3 linked regions of the Homo sapiens genome follow. The protein of the gene in region 2 purifies or fractionates together with the protein of the main gene of each other region. This does not show direct contact. Each region holds a gene or a part of one and is shown on either strand. Other genes may lie near its edges. The genes, in order: S100A7, KCNIP2 and ANKRD13A.

What was found.
Region 1: the proteins of KCNIP2 (region 2) and S100A7 purify together in Homo sapiens (affinity purification with mass spectrometry; 3 studies listed by BioGRID and IntAct, with this or other methods). This does not show direct contact.
Region 3: the proteins of KCNIP2 (region 2) and ANKRD13A purify together in Homo sapiens (affinity purification with mass spectrometry; 3 studies listed by BioGRID and IntAct, with this or other methods). This does not show direct contact.

What each region holds. Positions count from the first base shown.
Region 1 is NC_000001.11:153,457,607-153,465,179, forward strand, and holds S100A7 (protein S100-A7), read right to left. Parts: upstream 3,046-7,573; 5' UTR 3,002-3,045; intron 1,425-3,001; 5' UTR 1,408-1,424; coding exon 1,267-1,407; intron 365-1,266; coding exon 200-364; 3' UTR 138-199; downstream 1-137.
Region 2 is NC_000010.11:101,826,795-101,833,898, forward strand, and holds part of KCNIP2 (A-type potassium channel modulatory protein KCNIP2), read right to left. Parts: intron 4,374-7,104; coding exon 4,278-4,373; intron 3,149-4,277; coding exon of another isoform or gene 3,104-3,148; coding exon 3,050-3,103; intron 2,406-3,049; coding exon 2,281-2,405; intron 2,096-2,280; exon of another isoform or gene 1,924-2,095; coding exon of another isoform or gene 1,903-1,923; coding exon 1,833-1,902; exon of another isoform or gene 1,666-1,832; coding exon 1,595-1,665; exon of another isoform or gene 1,465-1,594; coding exon 1,357-1,464; intron 1,200-1,356; coding exon 1,095-1,199; exon of another isoform or gene 1,066-1,094; intron 958-1,065; coding exon 895-957; coding exon of another isoform or gene 847-894; intron 607-846; coding exon 559-606; 3' UTR 477-558; coding exon of another isoform or gene 414-476; 3' UTR 1-413. UniProt on the Homo sapiens protein: Regulatory subunit of Kv4/D (Shal)-type voltage-gated rapidly inactivating A-type potassium channels. Modulates channel density, inactivation kinetics and rate of recovery from inactivation in a calcium-dependent and isoform-specific manner.
Region 3 is NC_000012.12:110,002,351-110,009,454, reverse strand, and holds part of ANKRD13A (ankyrin repeat domain-containing protein 13A), read right to left. Parts: intron 1-7,104. UniProt on the Homo sapiens protein: Ubiquitin-binding protein that specifically recognizes and binds 'Lys-63'-linked ubiquitin. Does not bind 'Lys-48'-linked ubiquitin.

The sequences.
Region 1 (7,573 bases), on a different chromosome or scaffold from region 2:
GGGAACGTTGCTGGAGGGACATTACTCCTGGGTGACCCACTGGATGGGGGTGGGGGAAATTCTCCAACAAAGTTAACCTGGAATTGGTAGTTTTGACAACGTAGGTCACCAAAGAGAAGAAGAAAATAAGGCAAGTGTCTGGTGGGAGAAGACATTTTATTGTTCCTGGGGTCTCTGGAGGCCCATTGGTGGGGCTGGGTCACTGGCTGCCCCCGGAACAGGGCGCTGCTCCATGGCTCTGCTTGTGGTAGTCTGTGGCTATGTCTCCCAGCAAGGACAGAAACTCAGAAAAATCAATCTTCTTATCCTCATTCTTGTCCTTTTTCTCAAAGACATCGGCGAGGTAATTTGTGCCCTTTTTGTCCTGTGAAGAGAAAAACATACAAAATAGAAAAATTCAATCACAAACAAGTTTTGGGCTGGGAGGGAGAGGAGGAGGCAGAGATACAGACAAGTACCTAGATCTGCACAGGCATGGTGGCGGGGCTGAGAGCACAGGGTGAGTGGGTGAAGTTGGGGTGAGGACGTGAGTGTTATCCCTGGAGTTCTCTAGGGAGTCTTTTTGTCTCACACCTCAGGATGGGAGGCAGGTCCTGTCCCAAGGTGCTCTGTTAAGTGACCTTGGGGAGAGCAGTCCCCTGCCCCAGCCTCACTCTTTCCCGTCCCAGCCTCTAAGGGCACTGCCTACCTTAGTTCTACCCCAGGGCCTCAAAATTGGCCCTCATGCTTTTGTTCTCTTCTTTCTCTGGCCTCCTCTCCTTTCTTCTCCTTTTCCACCAAACTCATCTTCTGGGTATCCTACTCTTGGTCATCTAGACCCTTTGGTACCTAGTAGCCCACAGTTTTTTTTCAGATTTGCTAATGAGTCTTGTTTATTGCAAAGAGGGCTATTGATTTCTACTAACAATGGAACTTCTAGTGCTTTCCCAGTAATCTCAGGGATGTTGATGTGGGGCCTTTGGGAAACAGGACCTGAGCATGTGAGTTTCAGTCTCACAGAGAGAGGGTCAGTGAGTGCTGGGAGGGGACTGTGCACTGCCCTCAAGCTGCACACTTTGCTGACCATCTAATAACCTCCTTTATATCTGTATAACTCTTTCCCATTTTCATACTTTTTTGCCTACCATCCTTAGATTCACATATGATCCAAGTAATAAAGCCCTATTTGCAAATGGGAAATTTTTTAATCAGAGGGTGAGGGTGATCTGTCCAAGGCCACATAGCAAAATGTATCCTCCAACATTGAGAAGCTAGACACCGACTCACACAGGCACTAAGGAAGTTGGGGAAGTTCTCCTTCATCATCGTCAGCAGGCTTGGCTTCTCAATCTTGTCATCACGTCTGGTGTATTTGTGAAACATGTCGATCATGCCTATTATGGACCTCTCAGCTTGAGTGTTGCTCATCTTTGCTTTCAAAAAGCCTTCAGGAAATAAAGACAATCATTTTTTTCCCTTCATTTAAGTTAGGGTCTCTATTTGGGAGTGCTGGAAGGAGGGCTGAGGACAGAGTAAAAACACGGATAAGGTGTAGCAGAACGAACTCAATTTTTTTTTAATGTGATGGGATAAGTTGCTCAAAAATGAGAGGGTAGGACCAAGTCTGAGACCTGGCCCATCCTGGCCAGGGCCAAGAGGAGATGCAGGTGGATGGCGGAAGTCCAGCTGTGGACAGTGCTTCAGAGAGGGAGAAGCAGGGAGAGTCGGGCGCCAGCAACACATGGAAGAACTAAGCTGGGACACCCCAGCCTCAGCCAGCACATGGCAGACCCCACTCTTAAAAGAGCACCAAATCCATCTCCTCCAGCTTCACAGTCGGGGTGACAGTCATGGGGGCAGGACAATGGCCTTGGTGATCTGGTGTCTGACCCTCCTCGGCTGCTTCAGGAACCAGACACCGTGGGCCCCACCTTGACTCAAGTGCAAGCCCTGCATGACACGGTGTGTGCAGGCTCCAGGTGCACATGTGAGCGTGGACGTGAGTGTTAGCAGGAAACACAGTCCTGTCCCGAGCACAGGGGGCCCTTCTTGTATTCCCTTGGGAACGAGAAACAGGAATGGCCTCTGTTACAAGGAACAGAAATAACTCTCTGGTTCTTAAGCTGCTGGACGGGGTGGGAGTGAGGTGGGAGTCACTTCATGTCTGCTCTTGGGAATTATCTGCACCCTCTGAATCACCAAGCCTTGACTGTTTAAATAAAAATGTCTGACTTCCCAAAGCAGATCTTTCAGCCAGTAGTCAGTCTGGGCTGGCCTGCACCCCAAGCCTGAAAAATAGGACAGTGCAGTTCTCACTTCCCACACTTTCCAAAGAACCAGGAAAGGACCTTGGCTAATGCATATGGGTGTCTGACAATAAACCCCCAACACCTCTCAATGCAGGAGAAAGCTCCATGCCGGCAACTGACTAAGAGGAGCCACCCAGAGCTTTTTTGAATCTGAGGCCAAGGCCAGAGGGCAAGCCCTGTGCCCAGAGGGTGACTGACAATTTGCAGGTTGTGGTAGGGAGTGACGGAGCGTTGGTTTCTCAATACCTTACCCAGGTAGGGGCAAGCCATCTGGCCAGGGCTATGCTGTGTCGGGGTCCCAGGCCTGGGGGTTTGGAGAGCCTCCAAAGCATTCACAGGGGACCCCTAGCCCTCCACCCTCTGTGGAGCTGGAGCTGGGGAGGGGATTTAGCAACCGGGACCCCAACAGGAGGATGAATCCAGGGAGGAAGAGGACAGGGAGGGTCCTGTGCTCAGGTCCCACTGGGGACATTTCCACAGGAGTTGCCTCAGGAGATCCCAAAGGAGCAATGGACAGGTCTGGTTCAGCCACCTGGTTATACAGACGTGGGCTTTTGGGGTCAAGTGAAGGTCACACAGCCCAGCTAATGGCAGAGCTGGCCTAGACCCAGGCTTCTGAGTCTTTGTCCACAGCCCTTTCCCTTCCTACAGGCAGCATGGCAGGCCAGGCACTGGGCACTTCTAGAAAACGCAAAGAGGCAGGTGAGACTTACCAGAGCTGGGAAGCGTCACGAGTAGAAGGATGAGTGAGATGTGTGTGTTTGGACAAAGAGCAGTCCTTTATAAGGCTCAGCCTGGCTCTTCCCAGGGGCTGGGAGGCCTGGGGCCACCTCTGTCATCTGTTTCTTGGAGGCTTGCCCCACATCAGGTGGGTGGGACACACCCAGGAGGCTGTGCTCAGGATTTCTGGCCAGTGTCCCAGGTCACCAGGTCCCACCCCACCCCAGAGACCTCACCTGGAGTCTTCTCTGGCTCAACCTTGATTTGAGGGTAAGGCAGCGGTACATGTGTAGTAGCAGGTCAGAAAATGGGAGAAAAGAGCACTGGGCCTCTGGACCCAAAGAGGATGGAGTTTCAGACTCCTGAAGGCAGCATGGTCTTGTTTGTTCCCTCCCCTTATCCTTCCACACATTTGTTATGACAGCCTGTTCTATGACCCCCACCGCTGACTGAGCATTTTAATGTCTAGATATCAAGATACCTGCTGCTCCTGCATCCTCCTCAACCCTCATAGTCCTAAGAGGTGCTTCAATCTCTATTTTAGGAAAGGAGAAGTTGAGATGTTCCCAAGTTTACTCAGCTAGTAAACACAACAAATCATTATATGGACTCAGAAAAGCCTGAATCAAATCCTTACTCTTATCCCCTGTGCTATAGGTCTTGGGTCACATCAGGGTCTGCCCTATGGGAACTCAAAGTCCAGGGAGGGAAGCAGGGTTACTTCATTGCTAACCATTGGTCAGCCCCTCACAGAAGCCCTGGAATTAGGTGGGGGGACTGGGGTCAGGGGCCTCACTATCTAGGTTGAGTGGTGGAGTGACCCCCCCATGGAATGAGCCTGGAGGCAGGGAGTGGGAAAAGTTCTTTCCTGCCCCATGGCACTAACTTCCCAGAAAGTCTTCAGTGTTTTTCCTCCTCCTATGCAAAACAGCCTGTGTAGGAGTTGGGAGTTGTGCCCTTGGCTATAATGTGCCCTAACCTGCTGTGGAAAGGCTGACCCAGGTAGGGGCAAGAGGGTTGGGAAGGCATGGGAATCCCTGGGGCATGGTGAGGAAAGGGAGATGATGAATCACTGAAATGGACTTTTTCTGCTACCCCCTTGCAATGTTCCTTTTAGGGTGCAAGAGAGTTCCAGGTTCATTTAGTGCCAGCCCTTTAAGCACTCTGGGGCTCCACAGAGCTGATGTGATGTCTCCCTAGGTGGGACCTATTTTCTCCACCCATCATCTTTCTTCAACTTCCTTCTCGTCAGTACCTATGTAACCAGGGGGACCTGTTTCTCCCTCTCCCAGTTCCCCATGTGATGGCAATATTACTTTTAACAGCAAAAGATACATACACACACACACAGTGGAATGCTACTCAGCTATAAAAAAAGAATGAAATCACGCTTTTTGCGGCAACATGGATGGAACTGGAGGCTATTATCTTAAGTGAAATTACTCAGAAAGTCAAATACTGTGCAACCTCATGTGTAAGTGGGAGCTACATCATGCATACAGATGGAGGTAGAGAGTAGAATCATAGACACTGGAGACTGTGAAGGGCAGCAGGTGAGGCGGTGGGTGAAGGATGAGACATTTCTTAGTGGGTACAATGCATGCTATTTAGGATGGCTTCATTAAAAGCCCAGACTTCACCATTGTGCCATATATTCATATATATGTGTATGCAGGTTTTTGTGTGGACATAAGTTTTCACTTCTTTTGGGTAAATCCCAAGGAGTGTGATTTCTGGATCCTATGGTAAGAGTATGTTTAGTTTTTTAAGAAAGCACTAAACTGTCTTCCAAAGTGGCTGTACTATTTTGTGTTCCTGCCATCAATGAATGAGAGTTCCTGTTGCTCCACATCCTTCTTCAGCATTTGCTGTTGTCCAGTGTTCCAGATTTTGGGCATTCTCATAAGTGTGTACTGGTATCTCATTGTTGTTTTAATTTGCATTTCCTTGAGGACATATGATGTGGAGCATCTTCTGATATGCTTATTTGTCACCTTCTGTATCTTCTTTGATGAGATATCTGTTAAGGTCTTTGGCCCATTTTCTAATTGTTTGGTTTGTGTTCTTATCGTTGAGTTTTAAGAGTTCTTTGTATGTTTTGGATAACATACAAAGTCTGATATGTCTTTTGTAAACATTTTCTCCCAGTCTGTGGCTTATCTTTTCATTCTCTTGACAATATCTTTCACAAAGAGAAATGTTAAATTTTAAAGAAGTCCAGCTTATGAATTCTTTCTTTCATGGATTGTGCCTTGGTGTTGCCATCTAAAAGTCATCACCAAAACCAAGATGATCAAATTTCCTCTTATGCTACCATCTAGGAGTTTTGTAACATTGTGTTTGCATGTAGGTCTATGATTCATTTTGAGTTATGTATCATCACTGTTTAGAAAAAAGGAACAGAGGAAAAGTAATACAAAAGGAATCAGGGACAACAATATTAATACAAGACAACAAAGAATTCTAAGAAAAGGGATTAAATGAAAAAGAAGAATATTTCTTATTGATTAGTGTGCAAGTCACCAAGATGCGGTAGTCTTATTCTTTTTTTTTCTTTTTCTTTTTTTTGAGACAGAATTTCGCTCTTGTTACCCAGGTTAGAGTGTAGTGGTGTCATCTTGGCTCACTGCAACCTCCTCCTCTTGGGTTCAAACGATTGTCCTGCCTCAGCCTCCAGAGTAGCTGGGATTACAGGTGCACGCCACCACATCCAGCTAATTTTTGTATTTTTAGTAAAGATGGGGTTTCATCATGTTGGCCAGGATGGTCTCGAAGTCCTGACCTCAGGTAATCCACCCTCCTTGGCCTCCCAAAGTGCTGGGATTACAGGTGTGAGCCACCAGGCCCAGCAATAATAGTCCTATCCTTATACACATAAGAACACAATTTTGAATTATATAAAGCAAACACTGAAAGAAATTAATGGAAACTGACAAACTTATATCACTTGGCAGGTTTTGGCAGAGTCTGCCCAGGAACTTCACAAAGCCATCAGATAACAAAACACCAGTAATGGCACAGAGCAGGGCGGGCAGATGCTGCCACAGCCCAGAAGCAGCCCCAGACACAAGTCCCCGTGAATGATGATGGCTGTGTCCAATAAACACTAACCTCCAGAAACAGGTGGCCAGCTGGATTTGGCTTAAAGACCATAATTTGCTGATTCCTGATATAAACTATTTGAAGGACACACTTAAATTTATTTATACACACATACATTCATAAATTCATGCCCAACCATAGAGAATACACATAAATTTCAAACATATTTGAGACATCCAAAAAACTGATCATTTGTTTTTGCTAAAATGAAAATCTCAGCAAATTAGCCTTAATAGGGGCCTTATCTTTTGCACCTGCTCATCAGGTTGAACCCTGTGAGCCCTTCCCCTGTGTCATGTCTGGAACAAACACTCTCCATAAACCCACCCTACTCCATCACACATCCAACCTCTCAGCCACTGCTGATCCCCCAGGAGAGCTCACAACAGGCTGGTCGTGAACAGGAATTTGGCTGGTTGATATCTTCATCTCCTCCATCGTTTTGGGGAGCTCCCCTCTCCCCAGTCTGAGGTAGAAGCAACATACTCCTGGGTCTCTAGAAGATCTCAAGTTGCTGGGGGAAGAGAACAGAAAGCAATTTGTTCTTTTTGCTGTATTTTATCCATTCATTTATGCTGTGAGTGCTGACTCTGTTCTGAGTGTGCAGGTGTCAGGGTGGCAGGGAGATGGATTGAAAGTGGACCGTGCTTTGAGCAATGCTCCGGCCCCAGGAGAGAACTCCAATGAGCCACTGGGTGGTGAGAGAGTGGAGTCGGACAGCGCCCGGAAGCCCCCAGGTCCCCAGGCAGTTCAGTGGCACTTTCTCTGTGAAGCCTTCTCCAGGCAGAGACATCATCCCCATGTCCCTGCGTGTCTCAGTGACAGCCCTGGCCACACATATGCTATGTTTGCTGCCACCCAGCCATGTCTTATATTGTGCCCCCAGCCTCCAGTGCAGAGAACTCCATAAACATTGGCCAAACTAGCAAGTGAGGCAGGTGTCTTCAGAAAGGTTCAGATAAAGTGTGTGAGAATTTGGAAGAGGAGAAATCACTTTTCAGGTGGGGGAACCAGGGGAAGCTTTGTAGGGGCGTCCTTTCAATAGGCCATAGAGCACTTCCAGGAGCCACGGTGAGAGGGACAGGGCAGAGGGAGCCACGGGAATGTTCCGAGACAGCCAGCTGTTCTGTTTGGGGTCCTTCTGGGTGGTGTTGGCCAGCTGCATCTCTGGACTCGTGCAGCAGTTGGGGGAGCGGGACAGAGAGACAGAGAGAGAGTTCTGCAGCATTCACAAGAGGTTATTAGGACTCAGTTCTGCTGTGAGCCATCCACACTGGAGGATGAGAACACCCAGCTGCAGCCCAGAGCCTGTGGTCCCACTGTTAGGTTTTGAAGGGAAGGCAAGGGTTAAAGAAAGACACAGAGAGAGTCGGTGGCTCTATGGCAACACAGGTTTTACATCCAGCACAAGACCTGAGGAGGTGGGGGACAAGCTTAATGCCAGAGCCCCCTGCCGCTTACAG
Region 2 (7,104 bases):
AATCATAATCTGTCCAGGCCCTTCTATTCTCAACCCCAGCCACCTCCTAGGACCTATCCATTGACTCAGGCCCAAGATTTCTCCCTATACATTCTTGTCCCCCTCCCACAGGGCTCTCAATGGCTGGTCTGAGAAGCCAGCCAGTGCCAAGAATGGAGCATTCTCTCTGAGAGGGGAGTCTTAGGGGAAATGTTTATGAGGTCAGGGATGGGGGAAGCACCATAGCAGGAGACATCTGTCTAGTGTGTTTCTAGAGTAGGGGTAGGAGGTGGGGAACCGCTCAATTCCTACAGGAGGGGCACTCTCAACACTGGGTGTCAGGCAGGAAGGGGGTGAGAGCTGGTGGGAGTTGGGAACACCCCCCGAGATGCACTCTGCCCACTCTCTGGCCCCTTCAGCTCCAGAGATCTGGACTACTGAATCCCCAAGCTCTTGGATCCCTCCAGCCCCCAGGGAGGCGTAGGATGAGGATAGACCTGGGAAGAGAAGGGTGAGGTCCGCCTGGACTAGGGTTAGAGCATGGTCCCCCCAGGAAACACTGACCCCCTCTCCTGGGGGCTAGATGACATTGTCAAAGAGCTGCATGGACCTCATGATGTTCTCATCCTGTGGCCATGATGTGAGCGAGGCAGATTGAAGAGAGAGAAAGAGAAGGAGCTTATCAGAGACAGTGAGAGGGACACTGAGTCACAGACGGGGACATTCAAAAGCACAGAGGAAGGAGATGCCCAGAGAGACCTGAGGTAGGGAAGGGGTAAGCCTCCCACAAAGGAATAGGATTGAAATATGGGGGTGAGGTGGGAAGGTGGTATTCTTCCCAAAGAAGCTTTTCCCTGCATTACTAAATCAGGCCTGAGTCCAGGTCAGGGTAATGTAGAGGGCAGGGAGCTGTACCTTTTGACAAGACTCAATGAATTCCTCAATGGTCACCACACCATCCTTGTTTCTGTCCATCTTCTGCAAGAAGGTGGTCAGGCAGGGAGAACAGGAGGGATGGCAAGAGAGAGGCAGACAGAAGTCAGGTGAGTTCCCTGCTGGTTCTTGGCCTTCTTCCCTTCACTCCAGGGCCCTCCAGCCTACCCACTCCCAAGTACCTGGAAGAAGCTCTCCACGTGTTCCCTTGGGGCCTCCTCCCGGAGTGCAGGGTACGTGTACTTGCCCATCATGTCATAGATGGACTTCATGATGTCAAGCATTTCCTGTTAGGCCAAGAGAGAAGAGGATCCTTCCTCAGAGCCTCCAGCCTCCCTTGATCCCTTGCTTGTGGGCATATGTGGGTCATATTTCCCTCCCATCACCCTCTGCACGCCACCCCCATCACCGCCACAGACCCCCAGCCCTTCAGTTGCCCTGCACCTCCTTGGTGATGCAGCCGTCCTTGTTAAGGTCATACAGGTTGAAGGCCCAATTAAGCCTGTCATCTACAGTTCCCCGAAGAATCACGGACAAACCAGCCACAAAGTCCTGGGAAGGAGGCAGGAGGGAGCTGTGTCCTCGGGTACTCTTCACCCAACTCCTTCTCTGGGTTTGGCCTGGAGATCCTGGCCCTGAACTCCAGGAAACAGGCTTCCCTGGCCCACCTCGCCCAGCTCACCTCAAAACTGACCGAGCCATCATGGTTGGTGTCAAAGGCATTGAAGAGAAAAGTGGCATAGGTGCTGGAGTCTGCAGGGTGAGTGTGGAGAAGTTGGCTTCCACACAGGAGAGGACTTCCTCCCTCTAAGGAGCTCCCCATACCCCCCATCACCTTGGCATTCCCAGCTCCTCCAGAATCCCTCCCTCCCTCAGCCTAGAGAAGGACAACTGCTTCCCCTTGGGCCTTGTCCCCTCACCTCCTTGAGGAAAGAACTGGGAGTAAATCTGCTTGAAGTTCTCCTCATTGACAATTCCGCTGGGACATTCCTGGAAGGAGAGGGCACCAGGCTGAGGGCAGAGACAAAATCCCCTTCCGTTCACCGCCCCCACCCTCCATGGCCCAAGACTCCCAGGGAGGGGGATAATCTTCAAGCCTCCAGAGGACTCACCACGTGGCTCATGTGATGGGAGGGAAGACTTCTTTCCCAGTGCACAAATAAAAAACATGGAACGAAACTGACAGTCTACAGGCGCCACTTCCGTTCTGGCCCCGCCCCAGAACCTCCAGCTAGAAGTTCAGTCTCAGGGCCTTGCCTCCCTTCCGCCCACACCTCAAGCATCCAAGCCATGCTTTCTGGGAAGCTGTGGACCGGCTTGGGTCCTCCTGTCCCACCCTCGCTGAGTTTGGCCTCGCCTTGCACTCACGTTCTTGAAGCCCCGGTACAGGACCTGCAACTCCTTGCGCGTGAATTTGGTTTGCTCCTGCAGCTGCTCCAGACCCTCAGGCCGGTGACACACGGTGGACAATTCAAATTCATCGTCCACGCTGTCTGCGGGAGCGGTGAGGACAGCCGCGCCTCAGGCCCAGCCTCCGCGACCCCTCTTCAAATCACTGCCCCATTCACCCCCTCCCCGCCCCCCGGTCCCATCCGATGCCGGAGACCAGGCTGCCAGTTCCCTGGGCCCCGAGCCAAGGACACTGAGGTAAGGAGAAAAGATGATGGCCATCTTCGAGGTCTATCAGCGGGCCAAGGCCTGGCCTGGCCCCAGAGCCAGGGATCCGACTCAGTGCTCGCCCCGCGGCCCTCGATCCCTCGTTGGAGGGGAAGGCCCCCAGCCGCATCTTCGTTTTAGAAAGGGAGGAGTGGGAAAAGCCAGTTCAAGAGGGGGCGTCTGAGGGTCAGAGCTCCGGGCCTTCGGGGACCAACTCAGATCCGCCCAGCCCCAGCCTTGCCCCGCCCAAACCCTCCCCTCGTCCCACCCAGCCCCTCCCCTCGCCCCGCCCAGCCCCATCTATCCCAGCCATGCCTGAGCCATGCCCCGCCCAGCTCAGCCAACCTCCATCCAGACCCCACCCCCGGCCCCATCTCAATCCTGCCCCGCCCCCAACGTCCAGCCCCCAGGCAAGTGCCCCCCACCCCAAGATGGCAAAGCCGCCCTGCCCCGCCCCGCCCCCACCAGGAGCGTAAGTCACCTGGGTCCAGCAGGCGGGGTCTGTGGGGGCGGAGGGAGGCTGGGGCGGCTAATGCTGAAGGGAGCGAACTGTCACCGAGAAAGCGGAAGACCCGGCCAACTGCAGACACACACCTGGCCCCTCACACTCAGAGCAAACCTCACAACCCAGCCCGTGCAAAGGCACACCCAACCAGCACAGACACACACGAAACGGACCCCATGCACACAAGCTTGCGGGACTCACGCCTGTCCTTTTCCGAATCCACCCCCGTGTGGGACCCATCTAAGTCCAACACAACAGCATGCTCAAATAACTACAAAGCGGGCCTTTATGGTTTGCAAAATGCAGTATGATCCTATGAGGTGGGCAAGGCCCAACTGAGGAAATGGAGACCTAGAGACAAAGCGAGGTCACTCAACTGGAGATCACTCAGCAGGGGACCAGGCTGGCACAGAAAACCCAAATACCCTGGCGTCTGGAGGAGGGCAGGCGCCATCCTCTACACCTGTCACCATCCTGTCGGGGCATAGGCAACACACATCAGGGGTCCAAAACACGGTGGGGAAGGGGGCGGCCGCACGGAGTTGAAGACACTAACCCAGCTAAGCCACATACAGACCCTCACGGCCGCCTGGTCTACACAGGCCGCCACAGCTACACAGGCTCAGGCCTCAGCCTGGTCACAATGGTCACACCCACACTCTCGGGTCCCACAGTTTTGCGGGAGCGGTGACACACACCCGCTCCCAACTGACCACGCCCACACACGCTGGCTTCAGCCGCACACGCACACAGTAGCCACGCCCCCTTATGCTCCAGCCTTGCCAGCACCCGCCCTCGCCACGCTGGTCACGCCCACACACACACACACACACACACACACACGCACGCAGGCCTGGGGCACGCCCCTCCCCCACACGCAGGCGTGCGGCACGCCTCCCCATACACACACACACGCGCGCGGGCCTGGGGCACGCCCTCCACACACATGCAGGGGTAGGGCACGCCCCCCCACACACACACGCCGGCCTGGGGCACGCTCGCGCGCACATGCACACACATACACACGCACAGGCCTGGGGCAGGCCCCACCCCCACACACGCAGGCCTGGGGCACGCCCCCCCACACATGCAGGCCTGGAGCATGCGCACACTCGCAGGCCTGGGGCACACGCGCACACACTCATGCACAGACACGCACGCACACATCGAGCCCCGCCCCCGGAAGCACATGAGAGGCACTTGCTTTCACTGACTGAGGGCAGGGCTTGGGGCCCGCAGCACGGCAGCAGCTTGAGGAATCGCTGCTTCAGCGCTTTTTTAGTGGGCCCTGGAGGGTGGCCTGGGAAGAGAGAAGACCCCAGGAAGGCACATTAACTCCCATTGTCCCTCTGTTCCCTGTCCCCTCCCCGCCAGTCACAAATCAACCCCATCTGGGGACCGGGCTGGGGGAGGAATTAAGGGGAGGAAAGGAATGGCAAGGGTGGTTGGAATCGGGTTAGGGGAGCCCAGTGAGTCCATAGAGGTGAGGCTCAGGCACTTGGTTTAATGGGACGTGGCCGGTGACAGCGAGGCGGCAAGGATGAGGTGGCAGTGGCCTCAGTGTCTTTGCTGACCTAGTACCCTTGGCTCAAGTGCCATGGCTGGACCTCTCAGGATGATGTCCAACCCAAGGATTGCCTGGGTAAGAACACCTCTCTCATACACACACCTACAGTGACAGGCGTGTATAGTGACATGTAGAACAATACATCACAGTGATGGGTGCCAGTGACAGCTTGATATCCAGTAACTCACACCTGATGGCGTAATATGCATGCTCACACACACACACACAATGACCTGCTAACTCCTTAACACAAACATATACAAATGTGACCTAAGTAAAACAGGATGCATACACATGGAGACCCATATAGGCCATCTCACACACAGCATGATCAAACCACACAAGAACACACAATGCCTCTGGGACATCATGACATGTGAGTCTACAAAGAACACTATGACATTGTGACCTTATAACATTATGAGACATATCAAGGTTGTCATGACACATATCCATATCATACTGTGACCTGGGTCCCCATGGCACCCAGATATCTAAGGCTGTACCTCAATACCTCACCCACAGAGGCTTCATTTTTCCTGGGTACACCCACTTTTCTTTCCTGTAACCCCTCCTCATTCCAAGGTGCCCAGAATCTTTCTGCCAAAGGGCAGGGTTCCTCATCAGCTAACTCATCTACCCTAAACTGTGGCCCCTTCACAGTCTCTTCCAGTATGGCTTGCTCTTTGAGGGTGAAATAATAGTAAACTTTGTGGCAATAAGAGATCTTGGAGGCGAGTATTCTGGTGTATTGTGGGGCTATCCATGGCCCACTGATCATGGCTCCCCTTCCCCTCTTCTCCCTTATTTCTGCACATGCTCTACAGCTCTAATTGCACCCCCAGAGGACCCTCAGTGTTACTGTGTGTGTGTGTGTGTGTGTGTGTGTGTGTGTGTGTGTGTGTGTCTGTGTCTCCCAGCTGCACTGCATCCAGATTCCTGGATCAGATCCCACTGGATCTGACACAGTGACTAAAGTTGGCCTCAGTCCATTCCTGGAGGGGTCCAACTTCCTTTAGTTAAAGGTTACTCCCCCTCCATATACCCCACCCTCCCAATCCAGGCTTCACCCTCCAGATCAGGCCCTGTTCTCAGGAGGTGACTGGGTGAGTAACCACCTCCTCTCCTTCAACACATCCTTACCTCCCTCCCACCCCAGGAGCCATGGAGAGGTGGGAGGGAGGCAGTGGGCCAGGCAGGGGGATCGATGGCATTCCTGGCCTCTGGCCCAGGGCTCCATTAGCCTGGACTCTAGTTTCCCAAAGCTGGATTGCGCCTGGGGCCTCCAATGGTGTAGTTGCCCGACTCGGGGGTGGCTCTCCTGCCCCCCACCCCAGCCCCCTACCTGCTTCTAAGCCTCTGTCTCCTCTAAAGGTGAGAACAGAATGGCTGCCTTCAGCCCAAGACTCCTGGGATTTCCAGATGCCCTCTCTTCCCCCTTTCCCATCTAAAAGGAATGGCAAGTTAGAGCTCAATCAACTTCACCTTTTCCAGATTGAATGAGAACAAGCTCAGCCCAGCTGTCCCAGTTTATCTAGGTCCAACTCCCTGTTCCCCACTCCACCCCAATAAATGCAGCAGAGGATGGAGGGTGAGCTAGGAGTTTTCTGCTCTTACTGAACCCTAGAGCAGGCAATTCATGCACCTTCCTCTTGTTCCCAGTTTCCTTCATATTTTTCCAGTTCTTCCAGGTATCTACCCTGCAGTCCTCCATCATGGTTCTAGTCTGTCTTCCTGTCCCTGGTGGTACTGGGGAACAGCCATGCTACGGAGTTACACAGTTCTAGCCGTGAAGAGGAGGGAGAGGTCAAAACTCCCAAGGGGGAGGCAGAAGTGCTCCCCACTCCACCCCAATATTACTCTCCCTACTGACTTTGGGGTGGGCTGGGGAGGGGAGTTGATTTTCCACTCCCAATGTCTAGGCCCTGGAGATCACTCTGCACTTGGATCCTGATAGGAGCTTGGAGAGGCAAGGGGACTTGGGAAGCAGGGTCCCTGATCTGATCCACTCCTCATCCCCAATCATAGCTGGGCTATAAATGTCTCCTTCACAATGTTCACACTCTTCCCTCCAGAACCCACCTCCTCCCAAGCCTTGGGTATGGAGCTGGTATATCCTCAGGAAATTCTGGAAACAGCCACATGCACAACCTGATACCCAGAGGCTCAGCCACATACTGTGCCACTCAGGCCTGGCCACATCCACCTTCTCACAAAGCCACATGCCCTGTCACTCTCACACATACAGTCATATCCCTGTCCCATACACAGGCTCACAGTTACACACTTTGTACTCTCTCACATACAGGAACACAAAGTCACACCCTGTGTCTCTCACACACTATGCCCACACACCCCATAAGCTACACTGCACAGATGGAGGTGTGGAGAGGATGCACAGGCACCGTGGTGGGCCCCTGACTCCAAAAAGGACCCCCCAGAAATCCGTTGTTATCTCAGGATC
Region 3 (7,104 bases), on a different chromosome or scaffold from region 2:
TACTAAAATCAGGAATTAAAGATGGAATATTAGCAACTCTACAGAAATAAAAAGGATTATAAAAGAAAACTATGGGCCGGGTGCAGTGGCTCATGCCTGTAATCCCAACACTTTGAGAGGCCGAGGCGGGTGGATCACTAGAGGTCGGGAGTTCGAGACCAGCCTGACCAACATGGAGAAACCCCGTCTCTACTAAAAATACAAAATTAGCCGCGCGTGGTGGCACATGCCTGTAGCCCCAGCTACTCAGGAGGCTGAGGCAGGAGAATTGCTTGAACCCGGAAGGCGGAGGTTGTGGTGAGCCGAGATTGTGCCATTGCACTCCAGCCTGGGCAACAAGAGTAAAACTTCGTCTCAAAAAATAAAATAAAATAAAAGAAGACTATGAACAACTGTATGCCAACAAATTAGACAACTTAGATGAACAAGATAAATCCCTACAGAAATGCAAACTAGCAAAACTGACTCAAAAAGAAACCAAAAATCTGAATAAGTTTATAACAAGAGATTGAATTAGTAATTTTAAAACTGCCCACCAAAAAAAATGCAGGCCCAGATGGGTTTTTTTTCCAGACTGAGTCTCGCTCTGTCGCCCAGGCTGGAGTATAGTGGCACAATCTCAGCTCACTGCAACCTCCACCTCCCAGGTTCAAGTGATTCTTGTGCCTCAGCCTCCTGAGTAGCTGGGATTACAGGTGCCCACCACCACACCTGGCTAATTTATGTACTTTTAGTAAAATTGGGGTTTTGCCATGTTGGCCAGGCTGGTCTTGAACTCCTAACCTCATGTGATCTGCCCACCTCAGCCTCCCAAAGTGCTGGGATTACAGGCACGAGCCACCATGCCTGGACTTCACTGGTGAATGCTATTAAACATTTAAAGAATTAATACCAATGTTTCACAAACTTTTCCAATAAATAGATGAAGAAGGAAAACTTTCCAATTCATTTTATGAACCCACTATTATCCTGATGACAAATGCGTCACAAGAAAAGAAAACCACACACTAATATCTCTTATGATATAGATGCAAAAATCCTCCACGATATACTGGCAAACTAAATTCAGCAACATATAAAAAGGGTATTATACACTATGACCAACTGAGACTTATCCTACAAATATAAGAATGGTATAACTTCAGATAGTCAATTAACGTATTACACCATATCATAGGATAAAACAAAATACATGATCATCTCAACAGCTGCAGCAAAAACATCTGACAAAACTCCAACATCCCTTCATGATTAAAAGAAAAAAACCAAAACTCTCAACATACTAGGAATAAAAGGAAACTTCCTCAAAAAGCATCTCTAAAAAACCCACAACTAACATCATAGTTAATGGTGAAAGACTGGATGTTTCCCCTCTAAGATGAGGAACAAGATGAGGATGTCCTCTTTCACCATATCTAGTCAACATTGTACTAGAGATTCTAGTCATGGCAACTGGGCAAGAAAAATAAATAAAAAGCATCCAGAATGGAAAGGAAGATGACATGATCTTGTGTATAAAATCCTAAGGAATCCACCAAAAAACTATTAGAACTATTAAATGAGTTCAGCAAGGTTTCAGGACACAAGATCAATAACTAATCAATTATATTTCTACATACTTGTAATGAGCAACTCAAAAATGAAATTAAGACAACAATTCCATCTATAATAGCATCAAAAAATAAAACATTTAGGAATAAATATGACACAATAAATATAAAACTTACATACTCTTAAACCATAAAACATTGTTTAAAAAAAATTAAAGAAGAACTGGCCTGGTGTGGTGGCTCACACCTGTAATCCCAGCACTTGGGGAGGCTGAGGTGGGCGGATCACCTGAGGTCGGGAGTTCGAGACCAGCCTGACCAACATGGAGAAACCCCACCTCTACTAAAAATACAAAATTAGCCGGGCGTGGTGGCACATGTCTGTAATCCCAGCTACTTGGGAGGCTGAGGCAGGAGAATCGCTTGAACCTGGGAGACGGAGGTTGCAGTGAGCCAAGATTGTGCCATTGAACTCCAGCCTGGGCAACAATAGTAAAAACTCCATCTCAAAAAACAAACAAACAAAAAAAACCTCAAAAAATTAAAGAAGACCTAAATAAATTGAAAAACATCCTTATGCTCATGGTTTAAAAGACAATATTGTTAAAATGACAAAACTCTCCAAACTGAGGTATAGATTCAATTCAACTCCTATCAAAATCTCAGCTGGCTTTTTGCTGACATTGACAAGCTGATCTTAGAATTCATGTGGAAATGCAAGAAACCTAGAATAGCCACCTTGAAGAGAGAGGTCTGAGGACTCACATTTCACGCTTGCCAATTTTAAAACGTACTACACAAAGCTACAGCAATCAAGACAACGTGGTACTGGCATAAGGACAGACATACAGGTCAATGGAATACAATTTAGAGTCCAGAAATAAACCCACACATTTATGGTCAATTGATTTTCAACAAGGGTGCCAAAATAATTCATTGGGAAAGAACTGTCCTTTCAACAAGTGCCGCTTGAACAACTGCATATCTACATGCAAAAGAACAAAATTTTGGCTGAGCTCATTGGCTCATCCCTATAATCCCAGCACTTTGGGAGGCCAAGGCGGGAGGATCACCTGAGGTAGGGAGTTCGAGATCAGCCTGATCAACATGGAGAAACTCCATCTCTACTAAAAATACAAAATTAGCCAGGCATGGTGGCGCATGCCTGTAATCCCAGCTACTCGGGAGGCTGAGGCAGGAAAATTGCTTGAACCTGGGAGGCGGAGGTTGTGGTAAGCCGAGATCACACCATTGCACTCCAGCCTAGGCAACAAGAGCGAAACTCCATCTCAAAAAAAAAAAGACAACCCATGGAATGGGAGAAAATATTTGCAAATCACATACTGATAAGGGCCTACTATCCAGAATATGCAAAGAACCTTTACAACTCAACAAGTCAAATAACTCAATTTTTAAATGGGCAAAGGATTTGAGATGACATTTCTCCAAGGAAGATACACAAATTGCCAATAAGCACATGAAAAGATGCTCAACATCATTAATCATAAGAGAAATGCGAATCAAAACCACAATGAGATGCCACTTCACACCCACTAGGATGCGTACAAACAAAACAACAGATAATACCAAGTGTTGACAAGGATGTGAAGAAACTGGAATCTCATACACTGCTGGTGGAAATGTAAAATAGTGCAGCCACTTCGAAAAATTGCTGGCAGTTCCGCAAAAAGTTAAAACATAGAGTAACTACATGACCCAGCAATTCCTCTCCAAGGTATATACCCAAGATAAATGAAAACATATACCCATACAAAAACTTATACATGGGGCTGGGTGCAGTGGCTCATGCCTGTAATCCCAGAACTTTGGGAGGCCAAGGTGGGCTGATCACTTGAGGTCAGGAGTTCAAGACCAGCCTGGCCAACATGGTGAAACCCCATCTCTACTAAAAATACAAAAATTAGCCAGGCGTGGTGGTGCACACCTGTAATCCCAGCTACTAGGGAGGCTGAGACAGGAGAATCGCTTAAACCCAGGAGGCAGAGGTTGCAGAGAGCTGAGATCATGCCACTGCACTCCAGCCTGGGCAACAAAGCAAGCTGTCTCAAAAAAAAGGAAACCCACAAAAACATATACACAAATACACACAGCAGCGTTACTCATAATAGCCAAAAAGTGGCGACAACCCAAATGTCCATCAACTGACAAACGGAGAAACATTTTCGTCTAACAAACAAAACATAGTACATCCATGCAATGGAATATATTCAGTGATAAAAAGGAATTAAGCACCTGAAACATGCCACAACGTAGATGAACCTCCAAAACATTATGCTAAGTAAAAGAAGAAACAAAAGGCCACATATGATTCTATTTATATGAAATGTCCAGAATAGGCAAATCTAGAGACAGGAAGTAGGTTAGCAGGTTGCCTGGGCTGGAGGGGTTGGGGAGAAATGAGGAGTGACTACTACAGGTATGGGGTTTCTTTTTCGGGTGAGGAAAATATTACAGGGTGGGTGCAGTGGCTAACACCTGTAATCTTAGCACTTTGGCAGGCCAAGGCAGGAGGACTGCTTGAGCCCAGTCTGGGCAACATAGGGACACATTTTCTCTACAAAAAAATCTTTAAAAATTAGCCAAGCGTGGTAGTGCTTGCTTGCAGTCCTAGCTATTTGGGAGGCTGAGGTGGGAGGATTGCTTAAGCCGAGAAGGTCAAGGGTGCAGTGAGCTGTGATGGTGCCAGCCTAGGCAAGAGAGTGAGACCCTGTCTCAAAAACAACAAAAAAACAAAAAAGAAAGAAAAAGAAAAAAATTTCTGAAATTTGACAGTAGTGATAGTTGCATAACTCAGCAGATATACTAAAAACCATTGAATAACCTTTAAATGTAGATTATATAAGTGAACTATATCGCAATAAAAATCTTTTGAAAAAATCAATCTGTATATGTTTATACATAATACATAAAACGAATCTCTCATGTACTGTTTGACAAGTTGCTTAATTCCTCCTGAGCTTCAGTTTGCTCGCTTGTAAAACTGAACAATAAAAAAAACCTACCTTACAGTTCTTACAAGGGGAAAGTCCTTAACTTAGCACGGTGCTTGACACCACAGTAAGTGCTGAGAAGAGTTACCTGTTATTATCATACGCCCACACTATGTAGTTTCATATAGCTGTCACTTTCTCCCTAAAAGGGATTTGCTCAAATTGCATTACAGTTATTAGTGGGGCTTAGAATCTTCAACTAATAATATGAGTTCAGAGAACAAGGAGTTTCAGAATTTAGCTGGAATTCACTTTTTCTTTTGAGACAGAGTCTCCCTCTTGTTGCCCAGGCTGGAGTGCAATGGTGCAATCTTAGCTCACCGAGATCTTGGCTCACTGCAACCTCTGCCTCCCAGGTTCAAGCAATTCTCCTGCCTCAGCCTCCCGGGTAGCTGGGATTACAGGCATGCACCACCACGCCTGGCTAATTTTGTATTTTTAGTAGAGACGGGGTTTCTCTGTGTTGGTCAGGTTGGTCTCGAACTCCCGACCTCAGGTGATCCGCCCACCTCGGCCTCCCAAAGTGCTGGGATTACAGGCCTGAGCCACCACGCCCGGCTGGAATTCACTTTCGAAACTGATCATTTAGGTTTTCCTTTTAAGTTTCTTTAGCCATGAGCTATACCCAAATAAAAATACCCATCCTCCTTTAACTAGGAGTTTCCTTCCTATTTGCTCATTTCAGCTCATCCACTTTTCTTGCTCAAAAGCCTTAAAAAAAATTTATTTTTTTTTTGAGATGGAGTCTCATACTGTTGCCGGGCCTAGAGTGCAATGGTGCGATTTTGGCTCACTGCAACCTCCGCCTCCCAGGTTCAAGCGATTCTCCCACCTCAGCCTCCCAAGTAGCTGGGATTACAAGCACCCGCCACCATGCCCAGCTAATTTTTCATATTTTTAGCAAAGATGGGGTTTCACTATGTTGGCCAGGCTAGTCTTGAACTCCTGACCTCATGATCCACCTGCCTTGGCCTCCCAAAGAGCTGGGAGTACAGGCGTGAGCCACCGTGCCCAGCCAAAAAAAATTTTTTTTTAAGGAGACGGAGTCTTACTATATTGGCCAGGCTGGTCTTGAACTCCTGTCCTCAAGCACTGACCCCACCTCAGCCTCCTCAATCAAAAGCCCTCTTTACTATCTTGCCATCCTCCTGCCGAGCTCTGAGGCCAGGCTGCAGAACCAGACAACTGGACACCCCTTCCAGCTTGCCCACTAGCCTCAGGTGAATTATCAGTTCCCCTGTGCCTTGGTACCTGGCATGCAGGAAGTGCTTCATAAACTCACTGTCACCTTTAGGGGGACTCCAGCAAGAGGCTGCTGGCTAGTCCTCCTCTCTCTCAACACAGACAACCACCCTCACTCCTCTTCACTCTCAGACCATCCTGGTCCTGTGTGGCCCCCACGCTGAGTCAGTGGAAACAGGAATCTTGAGGCCAGTTTCCTAAGGTGAGCTTGAACCCCCGATGACCAAGGGGGCACATGAGGAGAGCAGGCTCTAGGCTCTTCATCTTGGATGCCTAGCCCATGGCTCAGCGATTTGAATCTGTGCCCGGGGCCTCACCTGGCCTGCCCCAGGCTGGAGTGAGAACCCCAGGAATGTCCTCCTCTTACCTAGGTGCTATACTTTTCACCTGCTGGCTTCCTAAACAGGGAGCCTGGCTCTAGAGTCAGGCCTCATTTGCCACCCTCCACCTCACACAACCCAGGTTTTCCAACCCTGTCTAAGGTACACTGACTCACCTTTGCATCTGTCCCCTTAAGTGTTCATGTCTCACCATCAGTAAGAAGGCCAAAGAAGTTTAACAGACTTCTTTAGCTAAGCGGCCAACGACATAAGCAGAACACAAACAGTTTCAACTTCAGCAACCAACTTCAAGGCCCCACTGAATATTAATGAGCTGATGGGTTAAGAGGCACTTTATTAAATGCCTCTGCTGATCAAATGAAGGCCTGAAACAATCTGGTAGTTGGCATAGTTACACAACTGCCTGCTATTAGTGAGACAGTGGGATTGGGGCTGGCTCACACACACAGAAACACGTGCTTATCCTCTTCATCTGGATAAACTTGATTCTTTCTTGTGTTGCTGTTCCTGGAACAGGAACAAAAAACCTGGAAAAAAATTCTTACAGCTATCAGTATACATGCTCCAAGTCTCAATCAGGTGATAGACGGAATGAGGAAACTGACAGCAGAAACTCACCAGCAAACAAAACATTAAGGGAAACAGCCACTTTATTGCTGGGGTGATAAGAATTTTTTGGGTTTTTTTTGTTTTTTGAGTCGGAGCCTCGCTCTGTCTCCCAGCCTGGAGTGCAGTGGCACGATCTTGGCTCACTGCAACCTCAGCCTCCTGGATTCAAGCGATTCTCCTGCCTCAACCTCCTGAGTAGCTGGGATTACAAGCACGTGCCACCACATCCAGCTATTTTTGTATTTTTAGTAGAGACGGGGTTTCACCGTGTTGGTCAGGCTGGTCTCCAACTCCTGACCTCAGGCGATCTGCCTGCCTCAGCCTCCCAAAGTGCTGAGATTCCAGGCATGA